5 linked regions of the Homo sapiens genome follow. The protein of the gene in region 1 interacts with the protein of each later gene in a pairwise test. Each region holds a gene or a part of one and is shown in the gene's direction. Other genes may lie near its edges. The genes, in order: ZDHHC24, AGR2, LMNA, HSD17B11 and STOML3.

Region 1 (3,523 bases):
CTTCCAGACCACAGCAGATGTGGGACACACAGCCTCCTGACTCCAGGAAGAGCCAGAGCTGTGCAGGGAGGAAGGGGTGAGAGGGGGGCCCCCACACCTAGACTCAGTAAGGAAGTCGGGTTGGACCTTAACATCTGCATTGGACAACTCCACCCCTTCCTTGGCCTTGCCCCTGCCCGCCTACACTCCTACGTGTCCAGGGCTTGGGCCGTGACTTAGGCAGAGGAGTGCAGAGGAGGGTCTGGCAGGGGCTGCTCAGGCCGCCTAGCTGCCCCTTTGCCAGGTTAATAAAGCACTGACTTGTTTCTCAGCCTCCCTCCATCTTTGCATAGTTTCTGGCCCCTCACTTTGTTGCTGGGGCTGTTTCTGGGACCCTCTGTAGGGCCTGGAAACTGCAGGATGCCTGAGGGTCTCAGGGGCTGGGGCTCTACCTCCCCTGGCCTGGGTGAGTTGGGGGTGGGGCACCAGCACGCCAAGGCAGTGTCCTACTGATCCAGGCTATGAGAATCCAAACATTCTTTCCCAGGTTTGGCATTTTATAGTTAGAAGCATTTCTGCAACAGCAGTTTCATGGAACCTCTCTTAGCTAACCTGGTCCATGGGGCAGCAGTTACGCTCTAAGAATCCATGTGGTAAGATCATGGTGCGGCAAATGGAGGCAGGGTCCAACCCAGGTCTTTGTGCTTTTGCCTTTACCCTTGCACAGCTGGAGGAAATGAGTAGGAAAGAAATCAAGGTAAAGAAATGCGCTGGGGCTGTTTGGGCATCTGTGGAGGGTGGTGCTGACAGGGCTAGGCCTGCACCTCTCTGGCCTCCTCAAGAGCTGCTTGTTAAATGTTTCCGTGTAAATAGAATGAATAGAGACCGCCATTTCCACATGGCAGGCCTAAACACATGTGTTCGTCTCAGTTTTCTCTTAGGATCTCTCTAAGATGATAGTAAAGAAAATCAAAAATAATACAAAGGGAAAGAAAACAGGAGGGAAGACAGTAGAACACAGAGCCTGACCACATTTTCTTTTTTCTCTCTGTTGCCGGGGCTGGAGTGCAGTGGCACGATCTCGGTTCACTGTAACCTCCACCTCCCGGGTTCAAGTGATTCGGCCTCCCGAGTTGCTGGGATTACAGACACCCGCCACTATGCCCGGCTGATTTTTTTTTTTTTCTTTTTTGAGACGGAGTTTTGCTCTTGTTGCTCAGGCAGGAGTGCAATGGCGTGATCTCGGCTCACTGCAACCTCCGCCTCCTGGGTTCAAGCGATTCTCCTGCCTCAGCCTCCCGAGTAGCTGGGATTACAGGTGCCCGCCACCATTCCTGGCTAATTTTTGTATTTTTAGTAGAGACGGGGGTTTCACCATGTTGGCCAGGCAGGTCTCAAACTCGTGACCTTGTGATCCGCCCGCCTTGGCCTCCCGAAGTGCTGGAATTACAGGTGTGAGCCATTGCGCCTGGCCATGCCCAGCTAATTTTTTTGTATTTTTAGTATAGACAGGGTTTCACCATGTTGGCCAGGCTGAACTTGAATTCCTGGCACCTGCCTCCACCTCCGTCTCCCAAAGTGCTAGGATTACAGGCGTGAGCTACCGTGCCTGGCTGACAATTTTTTATTATTTTATTTTATTTTATTTTATTTTATTTTATTTGAGACAGACTCTTGTTCTGTTGCCAGGCTGGAGTGCAGTGGCACGATCTCGGCTCACTGCAAGCTCCGCCTTCTGGGTTCACGCCATTCTCCTGCCTCAGCCTCTCAAGTAGCTGGGACTACAGGTGCCTGCCACCACGCCAAGCTAATTTTTTGTATTTTTAGTAGAGACGAGGTTTCACCGTGTTAGCCAGGATGGTCTCGATCTCCTGACCTTGTGATCCACCTGCCTCGGCCTCCCAAAGTGCTGGGATTACAGGTGTGAGCCACCACTCCTGGCCGGCCAGGATGGTCTTGATCTACTGACCTCGTGATCTGCCCGCCTTGGCCTCCCAAAGTGCTGGGATTACAGGTGTGAGCCACCGTGCCCGGCCGCCTGGCTGACATTTTCAAAGATGGAAAGTGGATGGAGAATTAAGAGCTGAAATTATGTGTTCCCAAAAGGTGGGGCCAAAAGGCAAGTGGAATTACCTGCCAGAGCCCCGGAGGGGCTCAGGAACTCCACCAGGACCATGGAGGGTGAGGTGAGGCTTCGGCCAACAATGGGGACCGATGGAAAGTCTATGTAAGGATCAGTGGGGTGCCGCTCCCCCACATCCCACCCACACCCCACCCACATCATGCAGCCAGCAGCTACACCTCTGGGTGGGGTGGTGTGACGTGAGGATTATTTGAAGGATAAATGGAACCAGAGAAGCTTCGGGTCTTAGGCGTACTGGGGAGGGGTGGGTGAGAGGCTAGACCAAAAAATGGGGTTAAGTGAAAGTCCATAGATACTGCTGGGGGGCCTCCCATGAAAGAACATGCTTGACCCCCAAGAACCTTCAGAGAAACCCACCCTCTGACAGGCTCTGCCCATGCCCACAAAGATCTGAGCTGCTTGGCTGGTTGTTTTTGTAACAGGCATGCTCTGTTGCTATTTTTTAATGACAGGAGGAACTTGGTGTACCTGGCACTTTGGGCTGCACAGACGCATTAGCAGACTCACCTTGTCCTGTTTCATCCCTCGCCCTCCACAATTTCTTATTTTCTTTCTTTCTCTTTTTATTTTTTGAGACAGAGTTTCACTCTTGTTACCCAGGCTGGAGTGCAATGATGCGATCTTGGTTCACCGAAACCTCCGCCTCCCGGGTTCAAGCGATTCTCCTGCTGCAGCCTCTCGGTAGCTGGGATTACAGGCATGTGCCACCATGCCCGGCTAATTGTTTTTGTATTTTTAGTAGAGACGGGGTTTCTCCATGTTGGTCAGGCTGGTCTGGAACTCCTGACCTCAGGTGATCCACCTGCCTCGGCCTCCCAAAGTGCCGGGATTACAGGTATGAGCCACTGCGCCCAGCCCACAATATCTTATTTTCATGTTTTTTTGTGTGTTTTGTTTTATTTTTCGAGATGGAGTCTCTCTGTTGCCCAAGCTGGAGTGCAATGGCGCGATCTTGGCTCACTTCCTGGGTTCAAGCGATTCTCCTGCCTTAGCCTCCCAAGTAACTGGGATTGCAGGCACCCACCATCATGCCCTGCTAAATTTTGTACTTTTGTAGAGATGGAGTTTCACCATGTTGGTCAGGCTGGTCTTGAACTGCTGACCTCAGGTGATCTGCCCACCTTGGCCTCCCAAAGTGCTGGGATTACAGGTGTGAGCCACCATGCCTGGACTCGTTGTTGTTGTTGTTTTTAATTAGTGAGGAGCTACAAGAACACATTTATAAAAATTAAGAGGAAACAGCCCCACTGCATTTGAGAAGGTTACCATTTCCTTCGAAGTTCCTGCTGTTGCCCCTTCCTGGTGGGGGAGACACTGTCCTGTTTCAGTCATTCCGTTGCTTTGCTTTATAGTTTTATTAATGTGTTTGTGTTGGCTTTGCATGTTTTCAAATATATGAAT
Region 2 (3,523 bases), on another chromosome or scaffold:
GGCATGGTGTGCAAAGTCATTCCTAAGCCGGCCCCTGAAGCAGCTCTAGCACCTTCTTTCGCCACTGCCCTCGTGCATCCCCCCAACTCAGTCCTTCCCCAGCACTTGGCCATAGGAGAAAATGCTCCACCTGTCCTCTCCATACTCTTCCCCCTGCATGAAGTGTCTTTCTTTTCCACCTAACTGACTCCTGTTCATTTGTAAAGATTCCTCCTTATCCACTTCAGAAAGTCCTAGTCGGGGTGGAATCTGCATTCTGGGCTAAATGTCTTGCTCAAGGCAATCACCAAACCTGCATATCCTACACCGTAACATTTCACCCACTGCATCCTCAATATTCATTTTCCTACCTGTATCTCTCAATAGAGTGTGCATTCATTAAAGATAAGCACCATGCCTTGCTAAATACAGTTCTAAATAAAAATTGATAAATGGATAAATGAATACTCAAGAAAATCCCGTACTTGTCTCCGTAATTTCTCTAGAAATGACATCTGCTTTTTTCCTTAATAGCCTCTTATTTCATCCCAGATGTCTTCCCCAAACACAGTAACTCCTTCCAAATTCTCCCTTAATTTTTTTGCTCTTTATCACATCCATTCAGCACTTTATCTCATGTTCTGCTCTATCTTATTTATTATTTCATGCTTGTAACTTGTCTCCTCATCTGTACAATAAACTCTGTGTGGAAGAGTTATGATATCTTGAGATGCCTGGCCGGAAATGGACAGATTCTTGTATTAACAAGTTTGAAAACGACTGAAAAGTCAAAGTAAACTAAAAGATGCTTTTCTTTTTATTTTAGTATGAAACAACTGACAAACACCTTTCTCCTGATGGCCAGTATGTCCCCAGGATTATGTTTGTTGGTAAGCGGAAGTGACAGTGAGATAACTCGGAAACACATACTAGTGCTGCCATCCTCCTTCTCTCCTCCCCACTGTCCCTTGCCACGTTGCCATGGCCAATGTCATCACTAAGCTCTAGCAAGGAGCATGACATTCCTTTAAGTTCCGCAACATATTTTCTTTAGAAAATGTGAGCTTTTACCTATTTCCACACAACACTTTCTTTTCTCACATGCTAATTGTAACTTTTCATCTTCTGCTATAATACTTCTGAGAACAAAGCACCCTATTCACTATTTAAACATATTGATAAATTTCCTGAATACGAGAGGCCTGCAAATATTTATTTTTTAATCCAGCAAACTTTCACTTTGTGTGTTAGATTTTTCTGACATTTTTTATCATTATTTTTAAGAAAGTTAGGAATAAGGCTGGGTGGCTCACGCCTGTAATCCTAGCACTTTGGGAGGCCAAGGCCGGCAGATCACTTGAGGTCAGGAGCTCCAAACCAGCCTGGCCAACAAGGTGAAACCCCATCTCTACTAAAAAATACAAAAAAAAAATTAGCCAGGCGTGGTTGCAGGAGCCTGTAATCCCAGCTACCTGGGAGGCTGAGGCACAAGAATTGCTTGAACCCAAGAGGCAGAGGTTGCAGTGAGCCGAGATGGCACCACTGCACTCCAGCCTGGGCAACAGAGCGAGATTCTGTCTCAAAAAAAAAAAAGGAATATGAGGTGGGAAAAAGAAATGAAAGGAGCCACATGCTCCTTCCTGCCACTGGTACTTTTCATATGCTTTCCCCACTTCCTTCTCTGTCCCCCAATTTCACATCATTAACTCCCCAATCATCATTATTCATTGACCGAGTCAAATCCCTACTATGTGCTCTTGTAGTCATACTTTCCTCAGGTATAATTTTGCAGTTTGGGGGTGGTTATGTAATAAATATTTCCCACATTGGACTATAAGCCCCTATGGCAGGGACTGTACCTATTTCTGCTCACCATGATATTCCCAACGTGACCCTGCAGTAGGCTCTCCATCAATATGTGTTTAATTATTGAATGAATGTACTGAGTTTGGCTTTGTTCAAAGTCATACTGATTTAAGGACAATCCATAATGAAATCCATCACTTACAACAATTCATGCTAATCATATGATTCACCTGTGTAATTCATTAAAAGTTTACACTGAATGTACAAAGCAGGGAAAAGAAAAACAAGAAATAGAAAAAAAGGAAGAAGGCTGAACTAAAGCACTAATTTTATAGGTTTAGTTTTGTCAGAATTTAGGACATTTGGAATCCTAACATTAAAAGGGAATTTATAGATGTCTGTTCATACCTTGTACAGGAATTCTTTGTACAGCATCCCTGTGGAAGGGCATTTTAACCCACATTCAATTCCTTCAGTCCTAAGAACCAGCTCCAAGGCAGCTTGCTCTTCTAGCTCCGTAGTAGCCACCCTGACTACATGTTTGAATCACCTGGAGGATTTTAAAGATCAAGTTGCCCAGGCCACACCTCAAACCAATTAAATCAGAATCTCTGGGGGTGGGAGGCAGGCATCCATAGTGTTTACAGCTCTCCAGATGATTCCAATGTGCAGCCAGGTGAGCTGCTAGTTGGGTATTTAAAAAGCCCTTCTTAGGTTAATTTCTTACAAAGATTAGACCGTGTCTTTGTATCCTCTGCACCAAACAGAAGTATAGTTGGTCTTAAATCTGGTGAATAAATGTACATCTGCTTCTTGTAATTTATGTGTCTGGCCTTAGTCCAACATTCTGAAATGACAGATTGCCCACTCCAGTACCAGCGACAGACTTTGCAAACATGCAGATGGTTCTCACATGTCTTCCTTGTCTCATTTTCAGGGCACGTGTCCTAGGTTCTTTCGATTACGTCTCTCAAGGCAAGGTTTCCAGATCTCTCTGTATCCTCACGCTTCCCTTTTGGATGCACCTTAATTTTAAAATACCTCTTTTTCTCATTAATTAGATCACTTCAAGTTAAATACAAAACATGGCAAGATGGATTTAAATTTAGAGGGATATAAGTATACATAAGAGAAGACCAATCTCTACTTTTAAAAATGCAGTTAATTAACAATAAAGTAAAATATAGTGAAGGTACTATATGCTTATTTGAACTTTGCTGTTGTTAAGGACTTGCATTCCTCTATTAACTTTTTTTAAAAAACTCGTTTTGAAAACTAGCATTGGATGTGGGTTTCCAATGATCTAGAAACATGTAAACTACAACATAATCGTTTCAAGAATTTAAAATAATTTTGCAGTAGAGAATGTTAATGTTTTCACCAAAAAAAAAAAAAACACCATGTCACCCCTAAATATATATTATTCTGTTTTCAGGTTGCCATAGATAGAACAGAAGGGTTCATAACCTTTTCCACAAATAGCACTGCACAGCTGTTGATGTTTCCAGCCCTGCATTTGCTACTAACTGCCAGGGGCTGGGTAGTAGAGTGGATGGATCAGAGCTCCTGTGAGTGCAGACACACTCCATTCCCTCACAGGACATGAATACATGAACTTCAGCTCCCCGGGGCAATAAATACAGGTTGTTTGAAAACAAACCATTCCATTCCCTTTTGCTTCATTTATCTTTGCAGACCCATCTCTGACAGTTAGAGCCGATATCACTGGAAGATATTC
Region 3 (3,500 bases), on another chromosome or scaffold:
AAGTGTTTGCTATTATATTATTATTATCACTGCCACCACCGCTTTTGCAAGCAGCAGAAGGTGAAGAGGTTAGACTGAAGAAAAAACTTCTGTGCTCATCAGCCCATAAGCTCGCAGAGCACAGGGATCATGCATCTATGTTTTCCTCAGTCAGTGTCTGCCAGGCACTGGCAAGGAAAGGCTGTTACCAGGGGGAACTCCAGGAATTCCTCCTGGCACCTAAGGAGGCTGGGGAGACAGGACTAGGGAAAAGGTGCCCTTGAGACACCTTCTGAAATCATCCCATTGCCTTCCAGCTTCTTTCAGCTCAGGCTGGCTGGTCAGGGAAACGCTTTGTGCCATAGTGTCTGCCCTCTTCCTCCTCCTGGCTTCTCCATTCTCTCTGGAACTTGTGGCTTAGGAAAGCAGTGAGGTGGAGGAGGAGGAACCCTAGATCAGCAGCTAGAATTGACTGGAATGCTGCTGCTGGCTTTCGGTAATTGACACTGGGCCATTCACCTTCCTCCTTTGCACCTCAGTTTCCTCATCTATAAAAGGGAGAGGGTTGAGCTGAATCAACTCTAAGCTCCTTCTAGTTCTCTAAATTCTGAGAGCCTCCTAGTACAGCCAGCAGCAGCCATTAGCCTTCAGGGTAGAGAGGCCTCTTCTGGGAAGCCCCAGCCAGCCTGGGGGTCAGCCCAAGGAGCTCGGAATCTAAGTTGCCCCAGTTGCTTCACTTTACCAGCGGTTTTTCTTCATTTTCCCTCCTCCCCCTGCAGCTGCTTCAGCTTCGGAAAAGTTCTGAAGTCATGGAAAGTTGGGGCTGTGCTCCCAGCCAGGGGCTAGGCCGGATGGCAGCCAAAACCTGAGCTGGGTTTTGACTTTATTTTTAGCTTTTCTGACTGAGACAGAGGAGGGAATACATTCTCCGGTTCTGGAAGGGGCTCTTTTTTGCAGGAGACAGACACTTACATTAAACAACTTGTTCTGAGGTGTGGCCAGAGGCCTGGACTGAGCAAGTGTGCAGGCTGGGGGAGCTTCCTCTGGCTTCTCATGTCCTTCCCCTGCCCCTCTGAGTGTCACTCTATCCTCCTCCCTGCCTGGTGGGGGGAGGTGGGGGTGACTCCTTTTTTGGACTCTCCTAAGCAGAACACTGCCTGGGTCTCGTCCTCCAGAGCTTCTGCAAATCTAGCCTTCCCTATCCCTCTTCACAGTGAATTGCTGGGCCTCTTGGAGTTTAGGACTTTTGTGGTAGAAGAAAAATGTTGGCAGGGCTGCTTTTCTCCTTTCCAGGATAGATTTTTCCTTCTGCCCACGCTTGGTTTTCCTTTTTTCCATCTGCTGTGGTGGGCTCATGCTTAAGCACTGATGAGTTACAGATGGCAGCTGGAACCAGGTCCTCTGGATCTTTCCCTCCGCTCCCTGGGTCTGCTGCTTTCTCTCACCCTATATTTGTGAAGCAATTGTAACATCTAGAAAGTTCTTGGGTTCTCTGGAGGTTTTTAAGAAAATAGGACCTTTCTATTTCTCCAGTCCACTAGCAAAAATAATCAGGGGCCCAGAAAAGGTGAGGGAGGTGGCAGAGGCAGCGCTGTTCGACTGGTTATAGCTAAAGCTTTACCCACTTTGAGGAGCAGGGAGGCTTAAAGCTGGGGCCCAGATGGACCTGGAGGCCTGGGATCCACATCTGGAACCAGATGCTGAGGCTATGGTAGATGGGTAGGGCTCAGCCTTCTCCCAGGGCACGGATGAGGCAGGAGGGAGGGAGGCAGGGACCCCTCTGTTCAGTGCAGATCAGGGCACCCAGACTGGGTCCTGAGAAAGGAAAGGGTCAATATTGTGCCTGGTCATCCTTGTCTGAGGTCCCTCTGAGCTCTAACCAGACTTTCCTTCCCCACAGTCCCACATGTGTAAAAGGGACTAGGAGAGGTGACCAGTACCTTTGGGGCTCAGATCGAGAAGTGCTAGGGACATGTGGGCCATGAGCTTAGTTGTCAGGCTCCTCAGAGGGAGGGAAGCTTGGCCAAAGGGAAGTGAGTAGAGTCCAGGGAGAAGGCTAAGTAAGGCCCTGTGTGGGAAGGGGCAGGAGACAAAGGTACCCCTGTCTCTTTGGGAAAGAATGGGAGGAGAGAGAGGGAAAAGCATTCATATCACGGGGTAGAGCTCTGCCCTTGGCCCCAGGCACGTTCCTGAGCCCTGAGTCATGGGAAGGGTGGAGAAGCAGGAAGGGGGTTTTCAAGGACCTTGGGGAGGTGGGAGCCCAGCCCCAGAGGCAAGCAGATGCAAACCAACCTAATGCAAGGATGCCCTCTCCTGGTAATTGCAGGCATAGCAGCGCCAGCCCCCATGGCTGACCTCCTGGGAGCCTGGCACTGTCTAGGCACACAGACTCCTTCTCTTAAATCTACTCTCCCCTCTCTTCTTTAGCAATACCAAGAAGGAGGGTGACCTGATAGCTGCTCAGGCTCGGCTGAAGGACCTGGAGGCTCTGCTGAACTCCAAGGAGGCCGCACTGAGCACTGCTCTCAGTGAGAAGCGCACGCTGGAGGGCGAGCTGCATGATCTGCGGGGCCAGGTGGCCAAGGTGAGGCCACCCTGCAGGGCCCACCCATGGCCCCACCTAACACATGTACACTCACTCTTCTACCTAGGCCCTCCCCCATGTGGTGCCTGGTCTGACCTGTCACCTGATTTCAGAGCCATTCACCTGTCCTAGAGTCATTTTACCCACTGAGGTCACATCTTATCCTAATTTGGCTGCCAATGGGATCTACCACAGTGAATTTAAAATAATCCAGGAGGCCGGGCATGGTGGTTCACGCCTGTAATCCCAGCACTTTAGGAGGCCGAGGTGGGCCGATCACGAGGTCAGGAGATCGAGATCATCCTGACTAACATGGTGAAACCCCGTCTCTACTAAAAATACAAAAAATTAGCCTGGCATGGTGGCGGGCGCCTGTAGTCCCAACTACTCGGGAGGCTGAGGCAGGAGAATGGCGTGAGCCTGCGAGGCAGAGCTTGCAGTGAGCTGAGATCATGCCACTGCACTCCAGCCTGGGCAACAGAGTGAGACTCCGTCTCAAAAAAATAATAATAATAATAATAAAAATAATCCAGGCCATGTGTGGTGGCTCATGCCTGTAATCCCAGCATTTTGGGAGGCCAAGGAGGCAGGATTGCTTGAGTCCAGGAGTTTGAGACCAGCCTGGGCAACACAGACCCCATCTCTAGAAAATAAAAATTTAAAGAAATTAGCTGGGCATGGTGGTGTGCACCTATAGTCCCAGCTACTTGGGAGGCTGAGGCAGGAGGATGGCTTGAACCTGAGAGGTCGAGGATACAGTGAGCTGTGATTGCACCACTGCACTTCAGCCTGGGTGACAGAGGGAAACCCTGTCTCTACATAAATAAATACATAAAATAAAATAATCCACAAGCCATTTCTACTTAACTTTGCAATGAACTGTACCTGACCCTAGATCCCTCCCAGTTTGGCCCTCCGGTATACAAGGGCCTCCTAT
Region 4 (3,523 bases), on another chromosome or scaffold:
TTTTTTTTGAAATGGAGTCTCACTCTGTCGCCCAGGCTGGAGTGCAGTGGCGTGATCTCAGCTCACTGCAAGCTCCACCTCCCGGGTTCACAAGCGATTCTCCTGCCTCAGCCTCCCTAGTAGCTGTGATTACAGGCACGCACCATCATGCCGGGCTAATTTTTGTGTTTTTGTAGAGATGGGGTTTCACTATGTTGGCCAGGGTGGTCTGGTCTGGAACTCCTGACCTCAAGTGATCCACCCTCCTTGGCCTCCCAAAGTGCTGGGATTACACGCGTGAGCCACCACACCTGGCCTGAGTTCTTTTTTTTTTTTTTTTTTTTTTTTTTTTGAGATAGAGTCTAGCTCTAGCTTTGTCGCCCAGGCTGGAGTGCAGTGGTGCGATCTCGGCTCACTGCAAGCTCCGCCTCCCGGGTTCACCCCATTCTCCTGCCTCAGCCTCCGGAGTAGCTGGGATTACAGGCGCCCGTCACCACGCTTGGCTAATTTTTTTGTATTTTTAGTAGAGACGGGATTTCACCGTGTTAGCCAGGATGGTCTGTATCTCCTGACCTCGTGATCTGCTCCCTCGGCCTCCAAAAGTGCTGGGATTACAGGCGTGAGCCACCGCGCCTAGCCCATTATCAGATATTTTGAAGTAGCTATTTTGAGGTGGCCATTTTAGTATCAGAACTTTTTTTCTTTTTCTCTTTTCTTTTCTTTTTTCTTTTTTTTTTTTTTTTTTGAGACAGTCTTGCTCTGTTGCCCAGGCTGCAGTGTAGTGGTGTGATCTTGGCTTACTGCAACCTCCGCCTCCTGGGTTCAAGCAGTTCTCCTGCCTCAGCCTCTCGAGTAGCTGGGATTACAGATGCCCGCCACCACGCATGGCTAATTTTTGTATTTTTAGTAGAGACGGGCTTTCACCATGTTAGCCAGGATGGTCTCGATCTCCTGACCTCGCGATCCGCCTGCCTTGGCCTCCCAAAGTGCTGGGATTTGTATATTTCTTAATAATGAAAGCAAGCTGAGAATCAGATATTTTGAAGTAGCTGTTTTGAGGTGGCCATTTTAGTATCATTTTAGTATCAGAACGTTTTTTTTTTTTGAGACAGAGTCTTGCTCTGTTACCCAGGCTGGAGTGTAGTGGCGTGATCTTGGCTCACTGCAACCTCCGCCTCCTGGGTTCAAGCAATCTTCCTGCCTCAGCCTCTCGAGTAGCTGGGATTACAGGCAGATACCTGTAATATATATATACAGGCTGATAAATATTATATACTTATATAGTATATATAAATATATAATATAATATGTATATATGAGATGTGCTGTATAATAATAATTAATAGTATAATACATATACATATACATATATAATAGTATAATACATATACTATTAATACTATAATACTATAGTATATTATACTATAATATACTATTACTATATTATACTGTTATACTATATTATACTATAGTATACTAATAATAGTATATACTATTATTATATACTAATATAATAGTATAGTATACTAATACTATATTATACTATTAATATATAATATACATACATATACATATAATATGTGTAATATAATACATATATGTATATATGAGTTGTGCTGTATATAATGCTGTGTATGTATATATGAGATGTATATGTAGATGTATATGTATATAATGCTGTATATGTATATATGTACATATTATATATGTATATATAATATATATTATATAATATAAATATAACAATATAAATATTATATATATATCCAGGAATCTGCCCAAGTAATTCTGATGACCTTGTTGACATTAAGGTAGTTAGTTAGGTACAAGCAAGAATGCGTTCAGAGTGAAACCCCATTATATACAGCACATCTCAATTGTATCTAGAAGAGGCAAATAATGCTTTATAGAAATATATCTGCTGGAGCGTGGCTTATGCCTAGAATCCCAGCACTTTGGGAGGCCGAGGTGGGTGGATCCCCTGAGCTCAGGAGTTCGAGATCAGCCTGGGCAACATGGTCACCTGAAGTCAGGAGTTCAAGACCAGCCTGGCCAATATGATGAAACCCTGTCTCTATAAAAATGCAAAAATTAGCTGGGCATGATGGCAGGTGCCTGTAATCCCAGCTACTTGGGAGGTTGAGGTGAGAGAATCACTTGAACCTGGGAGGCGGAGGTTGTAGTGAGCTGAGATCATGCCACTGCACCCCAGCCTGGACAACAGAGCAAGACACCATCTCAAAAAAAAAAAAAAATATATATATATAAATATATATATATATATATTTATATATATTTATATATATATATTTATATATATTTATATATATATATTTATATATATATATTTATATATATTTATATATATATTTATATATATATATTTATATATATATTTTATATTTATATATATATATAAAATCATATATATATACACGCAAAACATATTCTCTCTTATTTGAGAGAGCTAAAAATTAAAATAATCGAACTCTTGGAGATAGAGAGTAGAAGGATGGTTACCAGAGGCTGGGAAGGGTAGAGGTGGTGTAGGGAAGAAGTAGGGATGGTTAATGGGTACCAAAAATTAGAACAAATAGGCTACTCTGGTTGCACTGCCTGTGAGTTAGCCCTGCTCTGCAAGGAGCAGCCATAAAGAATTTTTTGTTAGTAAAAATGATTAATAATAGTAATTTAATTGTACATTTTAAAATAACTAAAAGTATAATTGGATTGTTTGTAACACAAAGGGTAAATGCTTGAGGGGATGGATACCTGATTTACCCTGATGTGATAATTATGCACTGCATGCCTGTATCAAAATGTCTCATGTAACCTTGAATATATACACTACTATGTACCCACAAAAATTTAAAAACAAAATTAATACAAAAAAATACAAAACAGACATTCATATCCTGGGGAGGTAATAGGCAATGATGAAGAAAGGGTCAAGAGTGTCTGGGAAAATCCTTTGGTAATATAAAATAGTATATAGGTATAAATGGTGTTGATCAGGGTCAAAAAACTTAGCTTGACACTTTACTAACGTAAATATAATCTGATGAAATTCAATTCTGACTGAAGAGCCTTCAGCATGGCAGATTGATGCCCTACAGGAGTACTGGTAGACTTTTGCCCATGGCCTCCTTTCTGTTTGGGGTGGCTTGTCTTGGGCTCTGACGTCAGACAGATCTGGGAGAGTCCCAGCTCCATCTTTTAATAGCCATGTGACCTTGGGTATGAAACTCAACCATTCTGTTTCATGTTTTCATCTTTAAAGTGAGCATATAAGAATTGCTGTCTCATTGAGTTACTGTGAGAATTCAATAAGAAAAATAATGAAATCATGTAAATGCATAACAAAGTAAAAGCCCCTCATAGGCTATTTGCCACTTTTCCCTCAGTCCCCCAACACACTGTAGCACTATCTCTAAATAATGATAACTCTGTTAATAGAGCTAGGTTTCATTTGAAACACAGTGTATAACAAAATGCATTAGGACGCTAGGGTCTATCCGCCCAAGCATCTTAGTTGCTTATGGAA
Region 5 (4,283 bases), on another chromosome or scaffold:
GAAATGAACATCAGAAAATTAGAAAATTGGTGTTCTTAGTATTGGAATAACCACAAAATTGTCTGTGGTTCTATGTGGTCTGATGAAAGAAGGAATCCTAGTACAGGATCCTAAGGATCTGGATTTGAGAAAGAGCTTTGCCATTTGAGAGCTGTTTTCATTTGTGATTTATATATTCATTCATTCAGCAAGTATTGTTGAACATCAATCATGTGCCCACGTTGTTCTAATTGTTGCAGATGCAATGGAAATGTTAGACCAAGTCACTCTCCTCATGGAAATGTATAGTGCAAGGCAGGGGTCAGCAAACTTTTTTTGTGAAGGGACAAACAGTAAATATTTTAGGCCTTACAGCTTGTATGGTCTGTGTCACAACTACTCAAATCCACGGGTGCAGTGCAAAAGTGAGCACAGACAATACAAAAATGAAAGAGCTGGGCATGGTGGCTCATATCTACAATCCCAGCAGTTTGGGAGACCAAGGCTGAAGGATCATTTGAGCCCAGAGTTTGAGACCAGCCTGGGCAATATAGTGAGGCCCCATCTCTAAAAAAAAAAAAAATTAAAAATTAGCCAGGTATGGTGGTGTGCACCTGGAGTCCCAGCTGTTGAAGAGGCTGAGGTAGGAAGATTGCTTGAGCCTGGCAGGTCGAGATTGCAGTGAGCTGTGATTGTGCCACTGCACTCCAGCCTGGGCAACAGAGTGAAATCCTATCTCAAAAAAAAAAAAAAAAAAAAGAAAGCAACAAAAGGACATACTGTGTTCCAATAACACTTTATGTTTTAAAAACAAGTGGTAAATTAAATTTAGCTGGCAAGCTAAAGTTTGTCAATTCTTGGTCTAGAAGAAGAAACAGACACAAGCCAAAAAATTATGCATATGATAACACGTGCAAAGATCCGGTGGCGAGAAGACATATCAAGCTTTGGAGGCACTGATAGGAGACCAATGGAGCTGCTTCACGGAGAGACACATGAGTGAGGCTGGAAAGGGAGGAAGGGGCAGGCCAGCAGGGTCTTGTAGGACACTTAGGAGTTTGGTCTTTACAATATTGACAGTTGGCAATTTTTTGATTATTTTAAGCAGGATGAAGACATGATCAGATTTGAGTTTCAAAAGCTCACTCACTGCAGTGTTAGAATGAGTTGGGTTAAATTTTCTCATCTGAAACATAAGGATGGATACACTTGCCCTGTGTATTGAACAGGTCATTGTGTAATCAGTGATCACACAAGATTTATACAAGGTGCATAGAAGTGTTTTATGAAATATAAATGCTATAGAAAATTACACAGCAATATTTTACAGGAAGCAATACCACCAGATGGTCATATTCTTTCAAGTTTTTTCTGTGAACAAAGGCAGTCTGAACTCATAAAAGAAATCTTTTTGTTTATGTTATCAGGCTTCCCTCACCAGGGTAACTACCCCTTAGGGAGTTCACTAAAGAGAAGGAATGTCTTTCACTCTCTCATACTTTCTCCTCTCCCCTCTCCCAAGCACATCTGAGTTGCTGCCTGTTCTTCACACTTAGCTCCAAACCCATGAAAAATTGCCAAGTATAAAAGCTTCTCAAGAATGAGATGGATTCTAGGGTGTCTTCACCTGAGAAGCAAGATAAAGAGAATTTCGTGGGTAAGTTCCTTTTTCCTGTCTTAGGCTTGTTTTTTACATATATGGCAAAGCAGGAGTTGTAGCATTATAGACAGGTATAGAGTAAGTATGAGATATATTTGCAGAAATCGGCCTCAATTTCATTTATAGCCCAGGATTTTGAATTCATTGCTTATGCTGATTTCATTTGCTTCTTGAACGGCAGTCTATAACTTGCTTTATTTTTCCTTCAATTTTAGATAAAGTTGGTGTTTATCTTTGAATTTCTTCTTTCTGTATGAAATCCTTCTCAGGATTTTGAATTCATTGCTTATGCTGATTTCATTTGCTTCTTGAACAGCAGTCTATAACTTGCTTTATTTTTCATTCAATTTTAGATAGAATTGGTGTTTATCTTTGTATTTCTTCTTTTTGTATTAAATAACAAAGATATGTTGAAGAGGCTGACTTTTCTCCAACTTCAAACATTTTCTGATGATGCTGAGATTAAAAAGAAAAGTTGGTTTGAGCTGTATCCTGTTTGATAAATGGAGAGAAGTTGAGAAAAAAAACTTAGCTTATAAGTACCAACTACTATCATTAATACTAATGACTATTATGTGTTACAAAGCATTTTGCTTGCATTATCTCTTTCAATTTTACAATAATTCTGAGGTAGATCCTCTTAGAATCTCATTTTACAAATGAGAAAACTGAGCATTGGAAAGTTTAAAAAGTTGTTCAGAAAGTGATTATGATGATGGTGTGCGTGTGTGTGTGTGTGATGATGGTGTGAGTGTGCGTGTGTGTATGACCTAACCTGTGCTCTGTACCTTATGTTGCCAAAAAAGCCATAGTACATGTTAGAAATAGAGAACACGTTTGGCATTACTAATACATAAAAGAAAAAACTAGGCTGCATGCACTGGTGCATGCCCTGTAATCGCAGCACTTTGGAAGGCCAAGGCAGGCAGATCACTTGAGCTCAGGAGTTCGAGACCAGCCTGGGCAAAATGGCAAAAACTCATCTCTACAAAAAATACAAAATTTAGCCAGGTGTGGTGGCACATGCCTGTGGCTAAGTGGGAGGTTGAGGTGGGAGGATTGCTTGAGCCCAGGAGGTTTAGGCTTCAGTGAGCTGAGATTGCACCACTGTACTCCAGCCTGGGTGACAGAGTGAGACCCTGCCTAACAAAGAAAAAAAAATGGAATAAAGAAAGAAAAAAGAAAAAGTATACATTTAGAGACATTTACCTGAATTGGAAAAGAAACTTTTCTTTTGAAGTAGGCATGAAAAGCTTGAAGGCAGTAAATATCATCTGGAAATGCAAGCGGGAGATCTCAAGAGTCCCCTTATTTATCCTTCATGAGACATTTAGTTTCCATTTTAACAGGTGAAGACATCAACTGGGTAGATGGCATGACTGAAGCTGTATCATCAGTGAGATTCTTGAAAGTACTCATGAGTTTTCTTGGTTTCGATATTTGAATATGAAAAACTGGCACTATCACAGAATGAACAAAATGGGGCTGATATATTTGCAATGTCTGATTTCCTGTGCTTTTGTAGTTTTTTAGGAGAGATACAGTGTGGACCATTCTCTGAGATCTGTGGACTAAGTTTGCCCTTGCAACTCAGATATATATAAAAAATATATATAATACAATATAACATATATAACATATATCTTATATAATATAGTATATAATGTATGATATATATTATGTAATATAGTATATATAATATATTGTGTAATATAGTATATATAATATATTGTATAATATAGTATATATATTATGTATTCTATAGTATAGTATATAATATGTAATAATATATATTATATAATACAGCATATATAATATATATTATGTATTATAGTATATATAATTATATATACTATATACTATAATATATAACTTGTAATATGTACTTATGAATACTTGATATACCTGACAGCACATAAGTGGCAAATATGTTTTTCCAGTTGTCACTTATTTTTTCACCTTTTTAATGATGTGTTTGATATCAAATATATAAAATTTCAATATATAATATATATAAAATATATGATATAAAATATAATATATTATATATAAAATATATGATATATAATATATTATATATAAAATATATGATATAAAATATATTATATATAAAATATATGATATAAAATATATTATATATAAAATATATGATATAAAATATATTATATATAAAATATATGATATAAAATATATTATATATAAAATATATGATATAAAATATAATATATTTTATATAAAATATATGATATAAAATATCATATATTTTATATAAAATATATGATATAAAATATAATATATTATATAAAATATATGATATAAAATATAATATATTATATATAAAATATAATATATTATATATAAAATATATGATATAAAATATAATATATTTTATATATAATATATGATATAAAATATAATATATTATATATAAAATATATGATATAAAATATCATATATTTTATATGAAATATAATATATTTTATATAAAATATAATATATTATATATAAAATATATGATATAAAATATATGATATAAAATATAATATATAAAATATATGATATAAAATATAACATATTATATATAAAATATATGATATAAAATATAATATATTATATATAAAATATATGATATAAAATATAATAT

What was found.
Region 2: the proteins of ZDHHC24 (region 1) and AGR2 interact in binary tests that used the Homo sapiens proteins (3 or more experiments, as listed by UniProt).
Region 3: the proteins of ZDHHC24 (region 1) and LMNA interact in a two-hybrid assay, tested with the Homo sapiens proteins (one large-scale study listed by BioGRID).
Region 4: the proteins of ZDHHC24 (region 1) and HSD17B11 interact in binary tests that used the Homo sapiens proteins (3 or more experiments, as listed by UniProt).
Region 5: the proteins of ZDHHC24 (region 1) and STOML3 interact in binary tests that used the Homo sapiens proteins (3 or more experiments, as listed by UniProt).

Annotation. Positions count from the first base shown.
Region 1 is NC_000011.10:66,536,046-66,539,568, reverse strand, and holds part of ZDHHC24 (probable palmitoyltransferase ZDHHC24), read left to right. Parts: coding exon 1-40; 3' UTR 41-3,523. UniProt on the Homo sapiens protein: Probable palmitoyltransferase that could catalyze the addition of palmitate onto various protein substrates.
Region 2 is NC_000007.14:16,794,977-16,798,499, reverse strand, and holds part of AGR2 (anterior gradient protein 2 homolog precursor), read left to right. Parts: intron 1-805; coding exon 806-869; intron 870-3,480; coding exon 3,481-3,523. UniProt on the Homo sapiens protein: Required for MUC2 post-transcriptional synthesis and secretion. May play a role in the production of mucus by intestinal cells. Proto-oncogene that may play a role in cell migration, cell differentiation and cell growth. Promotes cell adhesion.
Region 3 is NC_000001.11:156,128,211-156,131,710, forward strand, and holds part of LMNA (lamin), read left to right. Parts: intron 1-1,616; exon of another isoform or gene 1,617-1,639; coding exon of another isoform or gene 1,640-1,698; intron 1,699-2,406; coding exon 2,407-2,563; intron 2,564-3,500.
Region 4 is NC_000004.12:87,377,672-87,381,194, reverse strand, and holds part of HSD17B11 (estradiol 17-beta-dehydrogenase 11 precursor), read left to right. Parts: intron 1-3,523. UniProt on the Homo sapiens protein: Can convert androstan-3-alpha,17-beta-diol (3-alpha-diol) to androsterone in vitro, suggesting that it may participate in androgen metabolism during steroidogenesis.
Region 5 is NC_000013.11:38,988,023-38,992,305, reverse strand, and holds the start of STOML3 (stomatin-like protein 3), read left to right. Parts: upstream 1-1,474; 5' UTR 1,475-1,584; coding exon 1,585-1,636; intron 1,637-4,283. UniProt on the Homo sapiens protein: Required for the function of many mechanoreceptors. Modulate mechanotransduction channels and acid-sensing ion channels (ASIC) proteins. Potentiates PIEZO1 and PIEZO2 function by increasing their sensitivity to mechanical stimulations.